3 separate regions of the Homo sapiens genome follow, and all the other regions are linked to region 2. Evidence: fine-mapped expression QTL. A gene starts in region 2. Each other region holds a variant in brackets. All regions are shown on one strand. Distances are from middle to middle. Region 1 has its middle 140 kb from the start of DUSP6. Region 2 holds the start of DUSP6 (dual specificity phosphatase 6). Region 3 has its middle 110 kb from the start of LINC02458.

What was found. PIP is the estimated chance that this variant, and not a neighbour inherited with it, causes the effect. A credible set is the group of variants that fine-mapping cannot tell apart.
Region 1: its variant is the best candidate, but not a certain one, in a credible set for the expression of DUSP6 in whole blood (TOPMed, PIP 0.83).
Region 3: its variant is the best candidate, but not a certain one, in a credible set for the expression of DUSP6 in whole blood (TwinsUK, PIP 0.74).

Annotation. Positions count from the first base shown.
Region 1 is chr12:89,212,421-89,216,662 of GRCh38, reverse strand. No RefSeq gene overlaps it. Among named protein-coding and RNA genes, the nearest start is that of DUSP6, 140 kb to the left of the region's middle. The variant C/T (reference allele first, on the strand shown) is at 2,021.
Region 2 is chr12:89,350,539-89,354,780 of GRCh38, reverse strand. It overlaps DUSP6 (dual specificity phosphatase 6), which reads left to right and starts at 2,280. Exons shown (of 3, transcript NM_001946.4): 1 at 2,280-3,141; 2 at 3,756-4,193. The coding sequence starts at 2,742. It overlaps POC1B-DUSP6 (POC1B-DUSP6 readthrough), which reads left to right. Exons shown (of 11, transcript NR_189589.1): 10 at 3,756-4,193. RefSeq lists enhancers at 55-104, 3,154-3,788 and a silencer at 1,025-1,334.
Region 3 is chr12:89,132,458-89,136,699 of GRCh38, reverse strand. No RefSeq gene overlaps it. Among named protein-coding and RNA genes, the nearest start is that of LINC02458, 110 kb to the right of the region's middle. The variant G/C (reference allele first, on the strand shown) is at 2,456.

The sequences.
Region 1 (4,242 bases), 140 kb after region 2:
AGGCTATAACATTCTGAAGAGTCTCAAGTATTAAATATAATTTGTTTCCAAGCTTCTAAGACAATGTGAGATGAATAGTCCTTTCTTCTTGTTCACAAATAAAAATCTTTTAAAACTAAAACCAATGTTTTCAATGTCAAAGATTGTTTCCTTTTTTGGCTTATCAGCCACCACTGCTTCTCAATAGGTCATTTGCTCTTCCATCTAAGGAAGATTTATGGGACACCTATTGTGTGTCAAGTATTGTGCTAGATCCAGGTCTCTGCCTTTATAGGGCAGGCCCACAATAAGTAACAATAGCAACAAATTATTCATTACAATGCATGCTTTGATAGAGGCATTAACAGGATATATAGGAGCACAGAGGATGGAACATTTAAATCAGAAGCAAGGGAATTAGGAATGAAATTCCTAGTGTAGGTAATATTTATACAGAAGACTGAGGAACTGGAAATAGTTAAAGAAGGCATGCTTGTGGGCGTGCCCTTGCACATTGTGTATGTGGTTTATGTATGGAAGACAGTCCTCAGTGGAGAAATGACAGTATATTAGAAGACACAGAGGCATGATTGGGGAATGTCACACTGAAGTAATTTTATGTAGGAGGTCCCATACCTCCCTAGATCATAATCTCCACAAAGAGAGCCTCTTATTCATCAGTGTGCACTCAGAGCTTGGCACATGATAGGAACTCCATAAATATTTGTGGAACAAATGAATGACCTGAAGTCATAACTTAATAAGTTCAAACTACCTCTGCAAATGATAGCAAGATATTGGTAGCTGCAGTTGGGCTTTACTATGGCTTTTATGATTTTTTCTGGTAACTCAAAAGGGAAGACTCTGCTGTACAACAGCTGTTCTCATCCATTTTCTTTCCTTCACATTAGAATCACTTGTTCTTACTTTGCTAGTAATTATTGATTGATCCGTCAACTCTCTGTTCATGCTGGTGACATATAACACTTGTGTCAAACACGGTCATGGCTCTAAGACTCTCATATGGTTTTTTTTGATAATCCATTGCATCCTCCTAATATGAAATGTATATACTTTTTTTTTGAGGCAAAGCCAACACTGGAATTTAAAATAAATAATATGTATCTTTTTATGTCAAGGTGTTTTAACAGTTATAAATGTTAGACTTGATAACTATTAGAAAATTAAATTGTTAAGTCATAACATTAAAACTGGTTGAATGTTTATCATAAGAACAGTTCTTCTTTTTGCTAATTGAGCCATGGACTAGGAAACGTATGTCAATTTCATAAGCAGAACTTGAATATGTAAATACTTGACACACTGAAAGTTGATAGCAGCTGAGTAGACACTAAGGGCACACTTGATTTTGGACTTAAAAACATCAAAATTAGTAAAAACAAACTACTTTCATTCAACTGGAGAAAATGAGTTTCAATGTAATTTAATATTTAAAAATATCTTCATTAGGTTAGAAGATATTACATTAGAAATAAAATTAGTTTAAAATTTTTTATTTCTTTGAAAGATTAGTCAATTTTACTAGCCAGGTTTTGAACTCACTTTCAGAGGTTTGATCTTTATTATCTTTTGCAGATATTTCCCCAAATACCTTTCTCACTGTACACATCACCTTCTTTCTTTCCAAATTTGCTTCAGTTCATTTCTTTTGGGAGAGCTCTCTGGTGAACCTCACCCATCTCTGATTGCATGCCAACTCTCTGCTTCTGCCAGCTCTCACCCATGTGGCTTTTAATTCATTCTTTGACTTGTTGGCATGTATTTTTATTAATTTAATCAATGTCTTGCCTCTTTATTAAAAAAAGCATTATGCTCATGGCCTTTTGTTTCTAAGAGACAGGAAGCCATTCAGACGTTTTAGTAAAATTTGCTGAAAGGATAGTAGGGCATCTCTGAAAACTTTGGAGGGAAAAAAGTACAACCAGGACATGAAAGGCCCCGGGACTGCAAAATCAGTACCTGAATCCACTCTCTTCTCTTGCTGAACTACTAGCCTCTTGACTCTACTTTTCTCCTCTTA[C/T]GTGCTTAATTGTGTTTTTCATATTTACCACCTTACTCATGGTTGCCCCGCTCCATTTAACTTCTGCTTAGACATAGCTTTTGCTTGAATGGGTCCAGCCCTGACTTTGGTCCTACACCTGTCAATGTGTCCCTGCCACCTTCAAGCAACTCTCATCTCACTGTCTCAGTTGCTAATGCTAAATTCTATATACCCAGGTCAGAGAATCTGATTTGCTGAATTATGGATGGATTCTCCATTGGGTGGGTGTTTTTCCATCAGATTGGGTGCTAAGTGTCACTTGGTACAAGCAGGATGGACTTTCTGAAAATGAATTGTGGGCCACAGGCAATGACTGGCATTAAAGTACAACATTATGTTGTACTTTAAATGTTATGGAACATAGCATCTTTCATAGCATTTAAAGTACAACATTCTTCCATAGCATTTTGATTATTTCAAAAGGCTACCTGAAAGATTGAAATGACTTTAGTGAATTAGAACTGCTGAATTCCAGTGGTCTTCACTATTTTGCACCCCTCCTTAATTAAGAATACTGTTTCTTTCTTCTTAAATGTCTTATTTTCCAGGCTTGCCTCCATACTCTGGTGGGAATCAAGCAATGATAGTTTTGCTTCCTTTAAGTAGATAACGCTCTCAGTAAATCAATTACTCAGATCATCCAGGTAGAGCCTGGGTTCAAAGCCTGATCTCTCTGGTTGCTTAACCATTGCCCTTTCACCATAGCTCTCTGTTTTAAGATAGCTCACATTAGTTAAAAAATAAACAATGAAAAAAAAAGGAAAAGCACAACTCTACAACTGTGTGTACTAAAAGCAAGATTCAAGTATTTTCAACATTCAAAATCATAGTATTTAATTCAGTGAAGAGAGAGCCCTAGAAAAAACTTGTTTCAAGTTTATAAGTTGATCAGGGAAATTTGATTTTTTTTCCACTGACAGAGCTTCTAATATGTGCAGTAGTTTTAGCCTTTGATATTACTATTATGAAATTCAAAAATACTGTTCATTTTGGGCTGGGCATGGTGGCTCACACCTGTAATCCCAGCATTTTGGCAGGTCGAGGTGGGCAGATCACCTGAGGTCGGGAGTTCGAGACCAGGCTGGCCAACATGGTGAAACCCTGTCTTTTCTAAAAATACAAAAATTAGCTGGGTGTGGTGGCATGTGCTTGTAGTCCTAGATACTTGGTTGGCTGAGGCATGAGAATTACTTGAACCTGGGAGGCAGAGGTTGCAGTGAACTGAAATTGTACTACTGCACTCTAGCATGTGTGACAGAGCAAGACTCTGTCTCAAAAAAAAAAATACTGTTCATTTTATTTGTCTTCAAAATGTACCTTGGATTCTTGCCATTGTCACAGGGAACATATAAAACAGCTTGAAATTCTGCCTTATTCTAAGCCTAGCCTAACTCTTTTTCAAGATCTTAAGTAACCAGGGGCTTTTACAAATGAACGTATACCTAGATATGATAATATAAAATTATGGCTTACTAACTTTAGAGATGCAACAAAGAAACAGCTCCTAAATGGGGGTCTGGAGACCAAAATGTCAATTTGGGCTTTGCTTCTTAATAACTATGTGACCTTGAGGAAATCCGGTCTGCTTCTCCAGCCTCAATTTCCTAACCCATGAAAGGGAATAATCAGGCATCATTATGTAAGACGAGTGTTGTGAAGATAAAATAAAATAATCTATGGGAAGCCACTTTGTAAACTGAAAGGTAATATAGAACTGTAAGTGGATATTATTATTTATTTTATGAGCCAGTAGAATTCAAAGTCCTGATTTCATTGCCAGGAGGATTTTCCTCACAGATCTAATTCCTAAAGGTTGGCTTTGCCCAGTTAATGAGTACTTTCCAAATAAAGATCCCTTTTACTGCTTTGATTTTTGTGAACTTCCCTTTACTCTGATTCAAAGTCACATGGGAAGGTGCTCTTGTAAAGCCATTGTTTAATTTAGACTTTTCATACTGCGTGTATGTCCGGCTATTCTCTGGTTTCAGTCTCCAAGGAGCCTTTGAGGGCAGACCTTGCTTCTTTCCCTTACATATAGTTTGGCAGCAAATGAGATGTTTTCAATAGGGATGAAAAAACTCTCAGTATGTAACCTGTCACCTAAAGGAAGGAGGACATCCTGTTCTAAAGAAGTTGCCTCAGAGCCGGCCCCAGGTCCACCCTGGTGTTTCACTTGTATCTCAGGCAGTAGCCTGGGATGA
Region 2 (4,242 bases):
TGAACCTCCAACAGGTTTGCTCTTCTCAGTTCCGCTGAAGGGCATCCTGCCTCTTCCCTCCCTGTCCCCAGGTCCCAATGACTGAAACGTCTCGGGGTGGGAACTTCTGTGACAGATCGTGGAGGACAGGGGGAGTCAACTCCAGCGCAGGCCTCCCCCGGCTGAAACTAGAAGATACCCAGTGAAATATACGAGTTTTGTTCCAAGGACTGCCCAAAAATGGTGCGGAGAGGAGCTCGGCAATCCCCACCTTTGTCGAACACGCTCCTCCAGGGGCGGCCTGCCTGAAGCAGAGCTCCAAAATTGGCAACCTAGGCCTCGCAGCCGCCTTTTTTTAGCCTACATTTCCCAAACCAGGGAAGAGGCGGGTGACTAAAAATGCAAATTGCAGCGGGGGTGTTAGCAGGCATGCCCGTGGGTGCGGGGCGTCGGGCGAAGGGAGACCCCGCGACCTTAGGCGCCCTCGCGGTGTTCACGGTAGGCGCAAAGCGCAGCAAGGGACACTCCCCAAAGCCGCACCCCGCCGGACGGCTGCCCCCGCTTCCGCCTCTCAGGCAGCGGTGGGACAAAGCGCGGCCTCTTTTCCGCCGGGGTTTAGGGAGGGAAGGCCGGATTAGGGCCCGCGCCTTCCGGCTGCATCCCTCTCGCGCCGCGCCGGCCGCACACAGGTGGTTTTCCGCTCGGGAGGGGCAGGCTTCGGCACTTTTATATAACAATAGAGCTCTGCGCGCCGGGAACGCGCCTCCCCGCCGCCGCGGCCCCCACCCGGCCACGCCTCCATCCGGCTTCCAATCCGTCCGCCCCGCGGCGCCTGGGCCGAGTGCTGCTCGCTGGCCTGGCCCGCACCTCCCCAAAGTTACCTGCTGGCTTTGCAGCGCGGTAGAGACGTTCCCCTCGACTCCTTGGGAGCGAGGAGCCAGGGGGGTCCCGGCAGGCACTCGTCCTTGCTCCCCCCACCCTCCCCAGATCTCTATGGACCCGGGAGTCCCTCGCTGAGCCCCGCACCCGTCCACTGCGTCGCGCACAGCCCCGTGCCCAAGCGGGGAGACGGGGACGGCGGGGCGGTGGCAGGGAGCGCAGCGCGCAGGCGCGGCTGGTGCTCCCCGGAGTGCCCGGCGCTGGACAAAGGGAGGAGGCGGCGGCAGGAGAGGGCTGGGGAGGCCCCCTCTGACATGCCTCCCTGCCAACTGTAACCAATCGTCGAGCCCCCCTGCCGAGCCCCCGCAGCCTGCAGGTCTTGCGGGAGGACTTCCTCACGCCTCGCCCATGGCGGGGACTGCTGGCCCGGCCCGGCGCGTCCCAGCACACCTCGCTCAGGCAGCCCCGCCAGACCGGCTCCCCCGTCAGAAGCCGAGCTCCTTGCCCAGAAATCATTAACCAGCGCGACCTCCCAGCAGGCGATGGTGGTGGTGGGGCGGGGGGAGAGATATAGATTCCCCCGAACAATGGCTTGTAACTCCCCACGCCGCCGGAGCGGAATACAGTAAAAGCACTGGACTGACCTAAGAGTTTGTTTCTGCACTCTACATTGTTTTAATGAAAATAAAATGTTATTTTAAGAAAAAAGGTTTTCTTCTGATTTTCTGCACAACCAGACGTTTGTTTGTTTGCTTTAAAATGTTTCAACAAAATCCTGGTTTGTTTCGAAATATGTTGGATTAGCATTTAACACCTCATCGGTCACTAAAGCCCAGTCAGTTCACCAGCCCCAACACAGCCTCGGCTAAAAGAACATCAGAGCAAACAGAGCTGGGCCTTTAAAAGTGGCAAACAAATGCCACACACCGCCTAAAGAAGGGGGGTTGGGGGAGGGGAGGGTTAAGGCGAACTTGGGTCCAAATGAGTTTGAAGGGAATACAAAGAACGAAAAGTCAGCACAAGTTTTCCTAAAGCTAGCTCGCGAACGCAAGCGTCGCGAACAAGGGCTTTTGTGCATGCTAATTGCGCCATTGGTGCGCAAAAGTTCCGACGCGAAGTGTGAACTCTCAACAGAAGGAAACATGAGACAACTGAAGTGCCCTGGTTTATGTGCCCTGCTCCTCCTCCGCTGCCGCCTCCCCTTCTTTCTCCTTCCTCCCGCCGAGCCCGCTGTTGCAGCTTGTTTGCACTGGGGCTTATCCGGAGCGGAAATTCCTTTCCGTTTTTGTGAATGACAAACTCATTAACAATTCATCAACACAACCTGTTCCAGCCGGCCCGTCCCCACGGCAACAGCCCCTTCCGCAGCACGCTCATTGGCTGGCCCGGAGAATGTATCCATTGAGACGCTCGCTGTTTGTATCCATTGAGGAGCTGCCTCGCGCAGGGGGTGTGCGAGGCTGAGTCCAAGAGATAGCAAATCGAGTCTTAAATAATCCGGGGAGAAAGACGCCCGGGTAGATTTGAGGTGCAGCCTTGGAGGGAGGGATTAGAAGCCGCTAGACTTTTTTTCCTCCCCTCTCAGTAGCACGGAGTCCGAATTAATTGGATTTCATTCACTGGGGAGGAACAAAAACTATCTGGGCAGCTTCATTGAGAGAGATTCATTGACACTAAGAGCCAGCGGCTGCAGCTGGGTGCAGAGAGAACCTCCGGCTTTACTTCTGTCTCGTCTGCCCCAACCGCTAGCCTCGGCTTGGGTAAGGCGAGGCGGAATTAAACCCCGCTCCGAGAGCGGCAGCTTCGCGCGCGGTGCGCTCGGCCTATGCCTGCCCCGAGGGGCGTCTGGTAGGCACCCCGCCCTCTCCCGCAGCTCGACCCCCATGATAGATACGCTCAGACCCGTGCCCTTCGCGTCGGAAATGGCGATCAGCAAGACGGTGGCGTGGCTCAACGAGCAGCTGGAGCTGGGCAACGAGCGGCTGCTGCTGATGGACTGCCGGCCGCAGGAGCTATACGAGTCGTCGCACATCGAGTCGGCCATCAACGTGGCCATCCCGGGCATCATGCTGCGGCGCCTGCAGAAGGGTAACCTGCCGGTGCGCGCGCTCTTCACGCGCGGCGAGGACCGGGACCGCTTCACCCGGCGCTGTGGCACCGACACAGTGGTGCTCTACGACGAGAGCAGCAGCGACTGGAACGAGAATACGGGCGGCGAGTCGGTGCTCGGGCTGCTGCTCAAGAAGCTCAAGGACGAGGGCTGCCGGGCGTTCTACCTGGAAGGTACGCGCCCAGGGAACTCCGCGCGCGGGGCAGGGCTAGGGGCGCAGGGCTGCGGGCGGGGCGCGTGGATTGAAAATACCTCTGCTCCGCTCAGCTGGAGCTTCGGAGCCGCGCTGCCCGCCTAGGGACCGGCAGCCGGCGAGGTAGGGGCCGCGAACCGCGCGTTCCGCACCAGAGAACCGGGCCGGCTCAGAATCCACTCGCTTCCGGCTGCGGGTACCGGCGGTTTCTTTCTAACGGGTTCTGCGCCTTCTTAGCCAGAACATCCTCCACCATCACCCTGTTTTCTATCGTTCGATTTTGAATTAAGATTTGCAGGACGGGAGAGATTGTTGGGGATGCAAATTGGCACATCTTAGCTCTCAAAATATTCCAAAAAGTTGCCATTTTGTCTATTTCCGGATTCAAGCGAATAAGGGTTCCCTGGCGAGGCGGGCCCGTTCGTTCCATTCCCGATGGTGCACATTTAAAGTGTGTTTCTCTTATAGATGGTTCTGTATGTAGGGGGTTCGTAGGATGCTTGTGGTGTTTCTTGCGCCGGGCTGCGGTTCTTACAAGCTGTGAAAACTACTACGGCTTCTCAGGTTAGATGATTGCTTTTCTCGTTCTGGCAGGTGGCTTCAGTAAGTTCCAAGCCGAGTTCTCCCTGCATTGCGAGACCAATCTAGACGGCTCGTGTAGCAGCAGCTCGCCGCCGTTGCCAGTGCTGGGGCTCGGGGGCCTGCGGATCAGCTCTGACTCTTCCTCGGACATCGAGTCTGACCTTGACCGAGACCCCAATAGTGCAACAGACTCGGATGGTAGTCCGCTGTCCAACAGCCAGCCTTCCTTCCCAGTGGAGATCTTGCCCTTCCTCTACTTGGGCTGTGCCAAAGACTCCACCAACTTGGACGTGTTGGAGGAATTCGGCATCAAGTACATCTTGAACGTCACCCCCAATTTGCCGAATCTCTTTGAGAACGCAGGAGAGTTTAAATACAAGCAAATCCCCATCTCGGATCACTGGAGCCAAAACCTGTCCCAGTTTTTCCCTGAGGCCATTTCTTTCATAGGTGAGACTAATTAATAGTCGTCGCTCTGACATTTAAATGCAAAATTCCT
Region 3 (4,242 bases), 220 kb after region 2:
AATATGTTAACTGTAAAGACTCATTCTACCATTAATTATTTTAAAGCATATATTGGGTTAAAACTGTCATTGGCCCTAGGAATCAGCAAATCTTCCTATAAATTCTGAAGCTTGAGATGTCTTAGTTTATGATTAAAAGTATTTCTGTGTAAGTGGAACTGGAATGCTGTAGGCAGGTAATACTGAATAGAATCTAAGACTGATGCATTCTTCTTGGAGTCCTCATTTGTATTCCATGGCAGAACTCACTATAACTGTGCCATTGGGCAAAACATCTAAGCTGTTAAAATAGAGACTCATGGTGCAGTGGCTTAAACAAAATAAGTTTCTCCCTCATGTGTCTGTCCAGAATAGGCAATGCAGGGCTGTTATATTAACTCTGTTATATTTAACACACAGCTTCCATCTCTGTGTCCAAATTGGCTATAGCAACTCTTCTCTAGCTGGTGAGAAGGGGAAAAGAGGAAGTGAAGGGCACATCTCTTCTAGTTAAGGGCAAAATCTACAAGAACCCTTAACACATCATTTCTGGCTCACAGGTTGTTAGTCAGAACTTAGTCACAAAACCACACCCAGTTGCAAGAGAGCCTAGGAATTGCCATCTAAAGTTGGAAAGCTTTGAACCTAGTGAAAATTTGGGTGGGGAATTATATTATTAATAGTAAAAAGAAGGAGCACATAAATATTGGTGGAAGGCAAACAGTCTTTGCTACAATGGCTTGTTAGAAATTGTGAGTTGGTTTTCTCCGTATCAGAGCTGCTTTGTGGGTGGAATTCACTGTGATCATCTGTGCTGGAAGTAGGGCTCCTTGATAGGGTCAGTGAGGAGGGTCTTTTAAATTAATTTCCTGGTATACAGATCAGGTAATAATATAATCTCAGTGTTGAAATGGATCTTAATTGTCACCTAATTCAACCACTCACCTGAGAATCTCACTGAAGCACCTATCTTTTAGACTTGCCCAGTTTCCTATGTGAAAACTAAGGACATGCACAAAGTCACAGAATTATCAGTGACAATCAGGACTAAATCCAGAGAAACTAGTACATTTCAATTTCCTTCTTTTGTTCCTAGATAAATCCTTCTGAGCTTAGTTTCTATTATGCTATGGTCAGAGAAAAGATATTTGTGTTTATTATAAGCTATAACAGTCTATGTGTTTTTACGGTATGTTAAATGCTATAAAATAATTAAGCTATGATATTGATTTATAAGGCCCTTCTTTTGTTATCGTAACAGTGGGGTCTTAATAGAACATAGGTCATGGTTGCACATAATTGGATGATTATATGTTAGTGAAAAGGATATTGAAGTAGAATTCAAATGACCAGACCCACTCTTGGCTATCTAATATCTGTATGACTCCGGGAAAAATCATTGAACTTCTTTGAGGCTTGATGTATTTTTGAAATAAAGAATTGAGCTAGATGGTAAAATACTTAACCATTAACATAGCACATATTCCAACCAATCAAAACGGATGCCAGTCATGAAAAATTCAATTGGGTGGACTAGTGCATCATGGAAGAATGTCACCCAGGTTTAGTGCTATAAATTTTCTCTTGAACCTCAATTGTACACTGTAAAAAGCCATGACCTTAGCCTGCATTTTTTTTTGTTTGTATCATCCTTAGTACTTACATAATGAAAGAGTACATTGAAGCTTCCATCTGACGACTAGATGTTATTTTTAAGCCTCAAGTTTCAAATAAATATCAGAAAAAGTAATGAACGCCTGTAAGATGGTTCTGGAACAATGAGCAAGTATTGTCTATTTAGAAATCCCAGAGTTTCCCAGGTCCTTCTTTAAAGTAAATTTTAAAACAGTGTAGAGACTGGCTTCTAAAATGGCAAGAAATCCATTTAGTCATAAAAGAAACAGTTTCTAGAGCCTAATTCAAAAACCTGTCACATTTCATCACATTTCTAAAGACCTCATTGCCGAAGAGAGGACAATTGTGTGCCTGTACGTAAGCCTGAATATTATCTTTAGTGAGGCCTAGAGATAAATGTTGCAATGAGAACAGGATCCATTTAGGGTGAATTGGACAGAATAATTCTAAGTTATGGCATTGAAATTCCCACTTCACTTATAAGAATGAGATAAGGCAAAACACTCCAGTTAGTGGAACATGAGCTACTAATTTCCTGAAAAAGACAAAAGGAGGGGAGTGTATTGCTCTTACATGGAAGGAACAATTTTCTTCAGTCTCAGTGCTGACAATGAGAGACTGTGACAAGGGGAAAGTGATAGGAGAGGCAGCCTTAGATCAAAACAAAGAACAATGGAAAGCTAAACAATGACTCTTATCAGTTCCAAAGGTGAGTTCACCTTCCTGGCTTTTGGCCGTCCTGTTCATTGAGTGTTGACATGCCTCCATTGACATGCTTCTAAGAGGGCTGAGTCTGTTCTCTGCATCTGTTCTCTCTCTCTCTCTCTCTCTCTCTCTCTCT[G/C]TGTGTGTGTGTGTGTGTGTGTGTGTGTGTGTGTATGTGTACATGCATGTGTGCATTTTAATTATTTGTAAATAGCGCTTCTTCTATGGTATTGTTTCTTGGCTCCTGAAAAAGCTGTGGTTCTCTTCCAAATGCATAAACATGGAACTATCACCACAATCTCACCTTATGTACTTGAGAATGTGGGAGATGGATATATAAAAAACACTGGATACTTTGTAACGGAAACCAAGTCATCTTCTAAGATGTGAAAACATTAAAGTTCAGATAATCTGCAGAGTGAGGGAAGGCACTCTAATCCCAGAATTTCACTGATTAAGGTAGTGAATCCTAGGAAATATGGCCCAGTTATCCCAGCTCACTCACCTTCTAGACTTTCTAACCATCTTCTTCTCACCTTTCCTTTCACTCCATCCTGGAGGCTTTTACCAGACTTGCAATTCTGCAGCCATGGAAGAAGTGGGACCCTTTATACTAGACAGAGGAGAAGGAGATGAGGTCCCATCATGACCTCTGACAGCACTTTTATTTATCTTTCTTCTAGGACATCTAGAGTGGCTTCTCAGTTTTTCTTCTAAGAGGGCTGATTTTTTGAGGCTTTTAAACGCTGGGCTGGATACAGAATATAGGAAGAAGAAAGGACTTTTGGTACTGTGTTATCAGGCTAGCTGGCCTTTTCCACACCCTGGCGTCCTGAACCCATCACTTTCCTTCTCAACGTCCTTGGATACACCATATTGATGTATAGGGTCTTGTGATTCCTCTGCAATTCTTTTGGGATGAAATGAATTCTTTCTCTCTTTCTCTCTCTCTGCTCTTCCTTCTTTCATTTCTCTCTTAGTGTGCATTTTTCTTTGTCTTTCTCCCTGTACATGCCACCAAAAAAAGTCTTCATTTTTCGTTGAATCACTTCCACATTTCAGAATAATCTTGGGAAGATGTATTTCTATGGGGTAACTATAAAACCTAAACTATCTGTAAGTTCCTCCCTCCTCCATGGTGAAAGTTACATTCTATAATCAAGATGGCTTTGGATCCCTTTCCCATATTATTCTGATATAGTATGTTTCCACACTAGACTGAATCCATTTGGCTAGAAATGGACAGATACTATTAGCTTGACCTTTAGGAGGTAGGATTACAGTTTTATAGGGTAGCTAGGAAAGGTCTTTGAAACATGCATAATGAAGTTGTGGGGTAGAAAGAAAGAAGACTTTGGGATTACTCCACCTTTGTTTCAAATTTCAAGTTTGCCACTCACTGTGTGATATTGGGAAGGTTACTGTAACTTCTTTAATCATCGATTTCCTTATTTGAAAAATAGAGGTAATCATATCTAATATCACAGGATTGTTGAAGTCAAAGCTTAGCCTTGAGAAGATGCCTAATAAATGTGAACACCTCAATTTTCATGCTGACAAGAAAAGCACCAAATCTTATAATCTTCTTTCCTATTAATTGCACCTGCAACTTATTGAGGGCTTACTTTTTGCTAGCCACTGTTCTCAGCATTTTGTCTAACTTAATTCTCACTACAATCCTATGATCTAGGTACTAGCTATACTTCAAGCCGACTAGTGAACAACAGTGGCTGTTGTGGGTTTAAGTGACTTGCCTGAGGATGTCCAGTTAGTAAGCAACTCAACGCGAGAGTTGGACTTGGCTTCTCCCTGGCAAGCTGACTCCAGAACCCTCTCCCTGAACCTCACTCCACACTACCTCCCTATAGCATATATTTCGGGCAAGGATTTTCCTGCACCCAAAAGCAGAATGTCAAAGATACAGAA